Homo sapiens: one gene and its partner. The protein of the gene in region 2 interacts with the protein of the main gene of each other region in a pairwise test. Each region holds a gene or a part of one and is shown on either strand. Other genes may lie near its edges.

Region 1 (3,297 bases), on a different chromosome or scaffold from region 2:
TGAAATTAACTTTTTTTTTTTTTTTTTTTGAAAATCTGAAAGAATGAAAAAATACTTAGCTTAAGTCTCTGGAGTCTCTGGAATAAAACCTTGAAGTCAGTCTCTGGCCACTAAGGTGTATTTAAATATATAAAAATCAGCTGAACAATATGTACAATTTGCTATGAATGATTTGGCGGATCTTTGAAAGTTTTTTTTTTTTTAAAGCCTATTCCATTTTGAACTTTCTCAATGACAAATGTAAGAATTTTAAAAATGAAAAATGGCAGGATCATTATGTTTTTCACTCAAAATCTCTTATCTGGAGGGGATTCTCTCCAAGCAATAGAATTTCAGACATGTACCAGAACAATATAAAATTTCAAAGGTCTTCCCAGCAGTCAAACATGTAAATTAAACATTTACAACATAAAAAGTTTTGGCTTTTACACAAAAATTTTCAGGATGGAGTTAGGCCTGGACTTGTCATCTCTGTTGTAGGACTTGCAAGGTAGTCATTAGATTTTAAGCTTGTTAGAGACTTGTAACTTGCCACTGACGTTAGAGATCCACAGAGGCCAAGTAATGAGGGAGTATCTTCCTTACCTGAAAATTAGAATTAAATAGCAAATAATTAATTGCCCTTCAAGAATGATACAAATAAGATCCTAAAACCATTAGAAATTGGAAGAATCAATACTGTGAAAATGACCATACTGCCCAAAGAAACCTACAGAACAAATTGCATGATTGACTGCTATCCCCATTAAAGTACCAACATCATTTTTCACAGAATTAGAAAAAAAATCCTACAGTTCATATGGAACCAAAAAGCACAAATACCAAAGCAATCTTAATAAAAAAGAACAAAGCTAGAAGCATCACATCAACTAACTTCAAGCTGTAACCAAAATAGAAAGGTGCTGTTATACAGACACAAAGACCAATGGAACAGAATAGAGAACCCAGAAATAAAGCTGCACATGTATAGCCATCTGATGTTTGACAAAGTTGACAAAAGTAAGCAATGGGAAAAAGACTCTCTATTCAATAAATGGTGCTGGGATAGCTGTCTAGCCATATGCAGAAAAATAAAACATAAGGAAAAGAATTTATGACGTAAGTCCTTAAAAGCAATTGCAACAAAACCAAAAATTGACAAGAGGGACCTAATTAAACTAAAGAGCTTCTGCACAGCAAAAGAAACTATCAACAGGGTAAACAGACAACCTCCAGAATGGGAGAAAATATTTGTAAACTCTGCATCCAACAAATGTCTGATATCCAGAATCTATAAGGAACTTAAACATTAAACAAGCAAAAAATAACCCCATTAAGAGGTGAGCAAAAGACACGAAGACACTTCTCAAAAGAAGACACAGAAGTGGTCAACAATCATGAATATATGCTCATCATCAGTAATCATCAGAGAAACGCAAATCAAAACCACAATGAGATACCATCTCACACCAGTCACAATGGCTATTATTTTAAAAGTCAAAAAAGAACAGATGTTGGCAAAGTGACTGAGAATAGGGAATGCATTTTGGTTTACAATCTGATATTTTAAACCAAATGACATGATATAAGGGTTGCTACGCTGCTTTCTTTGTGTTTCTATTTGCCTGTTACACATTTGTTAATCCCTTTTTATTTACTGGCAAATTAGTTCAGCCATTGTGGAAAGCAATTTGAAGATTTCTCAAAGAACTTAAAACAGAATTACCATTCGACCCAGCAATCCCATTACTGGGTATATATCCAGAAGAAAATAAATCATTCTGCCAAAAAGACATATGCACTCATATGTTCATCATAGCACTATTCACAATGGCAAAGACATGGAATCAACCTAGGAGCCCATCAGCAGTGGACTGGATAAAGAAAATGTGGTACATCTACACCATGGACTACTATGCAGCCATAAAAAAGGAATGACATCATGTCCTTTGCAGCAACATGGATGAAACTAGAGGCCATTATCTTAAGTGAATTAACATAGGAATAGAAAACCAAATACCACATATAATCTCTTATAAGTGAGAGCTAAACACTGAATACTCATGGATATAAAGATGGCAGTGGTAGACAGTGGGGTCAACTAGAAGGGGAGGTGTGGTGGGGGGCAAGGGTGGAAAAACTACCTGTTGGGTACTATGCTAACTACTTGGGTGATGGGATCAATTGTACCCTAAACCTCAGCATCACACAATATACCCATGTAACAAACCTGCAAATACACCCCTTTGAATCTAAAATAAAAGTTGATATTTAAAAAAGACAGTATAATAATTACTGAACATAATAATTTTAAAAAAGAAAATTTAATTTCAGCTTATATTTCCCTGTTACCCACAAGTTGTTTGATGGGTTTATACCCAGGTGGAGGGGCCCTTTTGAACAACAAAAAAAAGTTATCAATAATTTCTAGGGTTCTTTTGCACTGTGATTAGAGAATACTGTTTGTAATATTTTACTTTATACATTTATTGCTTTCTTTTTTCTCTTGAGATAGGGTCTGTGTTGCCCAGAATGGTCAGGAACTCCTGGGCTCAAACAATCCACCCAGGTATCTGGGGGATTACAGGCATGCACCACTGCACCCAGCTTATGTTTTCTTTATGAGCTAACTTCTGAACATTTTTGAGACTGTTCTATCTGTACTTAAGAAGAAGTTATATTATCTATTTTCAGGTTATAAAGTTCCATAGAGCATAAGATATACCCTAGTAATTATGTTGTTTAGGTGTATTATATTCTTTTTTGTCTATTTGATTTGTCTTATACTGAGAATAGTATGTCTTCAACTGTCACTGGATTTCTGTTTCCTTATATAAAGGGGGATATCATTATTTGTTGTATAATCCTGTTATATCTTAATTTTTTTTAGCATTAAAACATATCTTTCCTTGTAATGCTTAATGCATTTTGGTTTAAAATCTACCCATCTGATATAAGGGTTGCTACCCTGCTTTGTGTTTTTTGGTTTTGTTTGTTTGTTTTTGAGACAGAGTCTCACTCTAGCACCCAGGCTTGAGTGCAGTGGCGCAGTCTCAGCTCACTGCAATCTCGGCCTCCCAGGTTCAAGCAATTCACCTGCCTCAGCCTCCCCAGTAGTTGGGATTACAGGGGCCCACCACCGCACCTGGCTAATTTTGTATTTTTAATAGAGACAGTGTTTCACCATGTTGGTCAGGCTGGTCTCGAACTCCTGACCTCAAGTGATCTGCCCGCCTCAGCCTCCCAAAGTGCTGGGATTACAGGCATGAGCCACCATGCCTGGCCCCTTGTTTGTATTTTTATTTGCCTGTTACATAT
Region 2 (4,098 bases):
TGCCTCAGCCTCCCGAGTAGCTGGGACTACAGGCGCCCGCCACCACGCCCGGCTAATTTTTTGTATTTTTTTTAGTAGAGACAGGGTATTTTAGTAGAGCCAGGATGGTCTCAATCTCCTGACCTCGTGATCTGCCCGTCTCGGCCTCCCAAAGTGCTGGGATTACAGGCGTGAGCCACCGTGCCTGGCCATCTTTGATTTTTATAAACCAGCAAACGGTAGAAAGTGTTGCCTCCCCAGGCACACGGCGTCTCCTCTCACCTCCCCTCATTTCAACAGCAGGGGACAGACACAGACCACCCGCCTGGCCAGCTCTCTGACCCCCATGGTCTCCCCTGAAAACTGGGCACGGGGATCACCCAGGGATCTAGGGGGGCACCAAGGCGAATAAACGCCCAGCTCACCGAAAACTTCCCAACACGCTCCGCCATGATACCCCATAACCCCCACCTGGAGGGTCTCCAGCAAAACTCCCGCAGCCCCTCCCTCCTGGATGCCCCAGAGCAGGTGACACCTCCCTTCCAGCGGCCAGGTCCCCACCTGACACTGGCTGGAGGGAGGCAGGGGGACGGGTGCTGGTGGCCTCTGGGGCACGAGAAGGTGCCTTGGTGTTCGGTGGGCGGCAGCAGATTTAGGCCGGGCCAGCCCAGGAAGGCCCGTCCGTCCCAACATGGAAGGAGGCCTTGGCTGTTTCTAAGTGCACCCCCTCCTGTCTCCCAGAGGCCTCAGACAATTTTCTCTGGAAAGCGGACGGTGCTCATCTCCTGGAATCTGAGGTTTGTGAAAGAACATCTTCTTCAGATGTTGCTGTAATGTTCAAGTTCTCCAACACTGCTGAGTTCTCTTTTGCTACTTAAAAATAAACATTGATGGCCAGGCGCGGTGGCTCACGCCTGTAATCCCAGCACTTTGGGAGGCCGAGGAGGGCGGATCACGAGGTCTGGAGATCAAGACCATCCTGGCAAACACAGTGAAACCCCGTCTCTACTAAAAATACAAACAATTAGCTGGGTGTGGTGGCGGGTGCCTGTAGTCCCAGCTACTCGGGAGGCTGAGGCAGGAGAATGGTGTGAACCCGGGAGGCAGAGCTTGCAGTGAGCAGAGCTCACGCCACCACACTCCAGCCTGGGGGACAGAGCGAGACTCCGTCTCATAAATAAATATATAAATAAATATATAAATAAATAAAATAAATAAAAATAAACGTTGATTTTTGTGGCCTCGAAAGGCCAGGGCCACCTCGATGATCCTGTGGGGCTGGGGCCTACCGGTCACTCTGTGGACACTGGATGCCTCCGGCCTCTGAACTCGCTGTGGCGAAGGTCACGGGCAGCACATCCATCTGTCTGTCCCACTGGCCGTGCTCGTCACAGGGTGCAGGATCTGGCCCTGTGCCTGACAAGGCAGTGGGGACACCGGGCACATGCAGGACCCCTGGCTTTCTAGACGGCATGGGGATCAGGACAGCAGGGTCCCTGATGCCCTGCAGGCCAGAGAAGCATCGGGCCGAAGGACAGGAGAAACCAAGTCACCGGAAGAGGGGAGTGGTCGTCGCTGTGCAGAGATCCAGTCCCCAAAACCCGGCAGGGGACCCAAACAGTGCAGGTATGGATGGCCGTCTGCGGCTCCTCAAATGGTCCAACCGGGAGTGGCCCTGTGACCAGCGGTTCCACCGCTAGAAGTCCACCTGACAGAAGAATCACGCAGCCACACGGGAACCGGACACGGGTGCTCGCAGCAGCCACACGCGGATGCCATGCAAACATCTATCACAGAAATAAACACGTGGCCACCCACACGCCGGAACACGACTCAGCCACGAACAGGAGCGAGACTCGGACGCGGGCCATGGCGCGGATGCACCGAGGGTGTCACACTCAGTGAGAGACGCCAAACACACCAGGCCTCATCCCGTGTGATTCCACCCCTAGGAGGTCCCTGGAGCCCTCAGAGTCACAGAGCCAGAAAGTAGGATGGGGGTGCCAGGGGCTGGAGAGGGCACGGGAGTGAACGTTTCACGAAGACAGCGTCTCAATTTGGGAAGGTGGGAAGGTTCTGGAAAGGATGGTGTGGAAGGCTGGCTGCTGATGGGGCCAGGGCTCCCTTTGCAGGTGATGAGAACACTCTGGAATTACAGGTGGTGGCTGCACTCACAGAGGAGCCTTGACCACGGCAGGTTTGAACTGACAGGTCCACTCTGACGTGGATTTTTTCAATAAAGGTTGCCCTGAGGGCGCCAGCCTCTCCTGGCTCCTTCCCGCTCTGCCACCCGAGACAGCGAGACCCACCCTCCCTTCCTCAGCCCTCAACGTGAACACGACGAGGACAGAGGCTTCCATGAGCATTACTTCCACTGCGTGAAGAGCAAACAGGGTTTCTCTTCCTTCTGCTTTTCTCCACATGTTCTGGTCTCCAGCTTCCCTCACTGTGAGAACGCAGCACCTAACACAACACACGAGGTATGTGTGCGCGGACCACGTGTCCTCCCGAGGCCTCTGGTCACCAGCAGGCTGTCGGCAGCGGCATCTGGAGGACTCGAAAGCTATACGAGGGTATTTTGCTACATGAGGGGCTGCTGCCCTAAACCCCACCCTGCTCAAGGGTCAGCTGTACAAAAACCACTTGCGTGCACACGTTGCCGAATTTTACCAAACGTGGATTATGTTCCCAGCAAAAAAAAGTGGCTCATGCTCTAAGGACCACACCGAAATAAGGCTGGTAAGAGAACAGTGAGCTGGGTCAGTGTGACGGGATCTTTTTTTTTTTTGCGTTTTTTTTTTTTTTTTTTGAGACGGAGTCTCACTCTGTCGCCCACATGGAGTGCAATGGCGCGGTCTCAGCTCACTGTAAGCTTCGCCTCCCGGGTTCATGCCATTCTCCTCCCTCAGCCTCCCGAGTAGCTGGGAGTACAGGCGCCTGCCACCGCGCCCGGCTAATTTTTTGTCTTTTTAGTAGAGACGGGGTTTCACTGTGTTAGCCAGGATGGTCTCGATCTCCTGACCTCGTGATCCACCCGCCTCGGCCTCCCAAAGTGCTGGGATTACAGGCGTGAGCCACCACGCCCGGCCGGGATCGTTAATTTTAAGAAACGCTGTGAGCCCGGCTCTGGCCAGCACCCTGGGGATGAGAGGGGGAGGGACAGGGCCCGGGGCAGCGGCCTTCCAGAATGGCTCCCTCCGGTGCAGGATCAAGTCTGAGCCCAGGGCGGGGCCGCCCCCCGAAGCCACACCTCCTGCTCACAGGGCCAGGGTTTAACCAGCTCATCCCGGGTCCCGGCCCACGAAGCTTTCAGAGGAACCGGGGCTGTGCGCCCACAGGAAGGAGAGGCCAGTGCCCGGGCACGAGGACGAGCTGACTCATGGGGGCCCCAGGACGTCACCACACCCATTGCCCAGGGCCGCGGGCGAGGTCCAAGGGGCAGCGGAGGTCCCCGACAACTCATGGGGCAGCCACGGTCCACCCAGGGCTCAGGCAGCGAGCCCCACACAGCGCCCCTCTCCACGGCGTACAGGCCTGACCAGCGTGATGGCACAGCACGCACACACCTGTGCAGACGCCAGCGCAAACGCACACCACCCCTGCGGTCGCAAGCCCTGTCCCAGCCCACCTGCAGGCTCCAGGGCTCTGGCTGGCCTGCACGTGGCCAGGGCCCAGCTGGATCCCCCTCGGCGCACCCACCCTCAGAGGAACTCAAAGGCACACCCAGCAAGTCAGAGGCAGACACGGGCCAGTCCGTGTCCTCACGCTGGTCCCGTGCGCTGCCCTCAGGCTCCCGTCCTGGGAACTGTCCCCAGGCAGAGCCTGGGCATCAGCGCCAGCTGCCCTGCCCCAGGACCACTGGAGCAGAAGCCCGAGGGGCACAACTGCCGCGGACAGGATGAGCCCTCGCACGCCTGCCATCTTTCCTGGGGACAGAGGTCAGATGGGAAGGGGCAGAGGTCACCGCAGATTACATGAGCATCACCTGGGAAACAAGGTCCCTAAGGAGGGCGGGTCCCACCTGCAACAGGGCCTGAAGCACCACGGCCAAGGCGAGAGGACTGGCCATCAGGCCTCACAGGCAGGGACTCTGTCCACGAATCCAGACCAGGACTTGGG

Evidence for each region.
Region 1: the proteins of CSNK1G2 (region 2) and RUNDC3B interact in a two-hybrid assay, tested with the Homo sapiens proteins (one large-scale study listed by BioGRID and IntAct).

Annotation. Positions count from the first base shown.
Region 1 is NC_000007.14:87,827,173-87,830,469, reverse strand, and holds part of RUNDC3B (RUN domain-containing protein 3B), read right to left. Parts: intron 586-3,297; coding exon 440-585; 3' UTR 1-439.
Region 2 is NC_000019.10:1,947,212-1,951,309, reverse strand, and holds part of CSNK1G2 (casein kinase I), read right to left. Parts: intron 1-4,098. UniProt on the Homo sapiens protein: Serine/threonine-protein kinase. Casein kinases are operationally defined by their preferential utilization of acidic proteins such as caseins as substrates. It can phosphorylate a large number of proteins. Participates in Wnt signaling.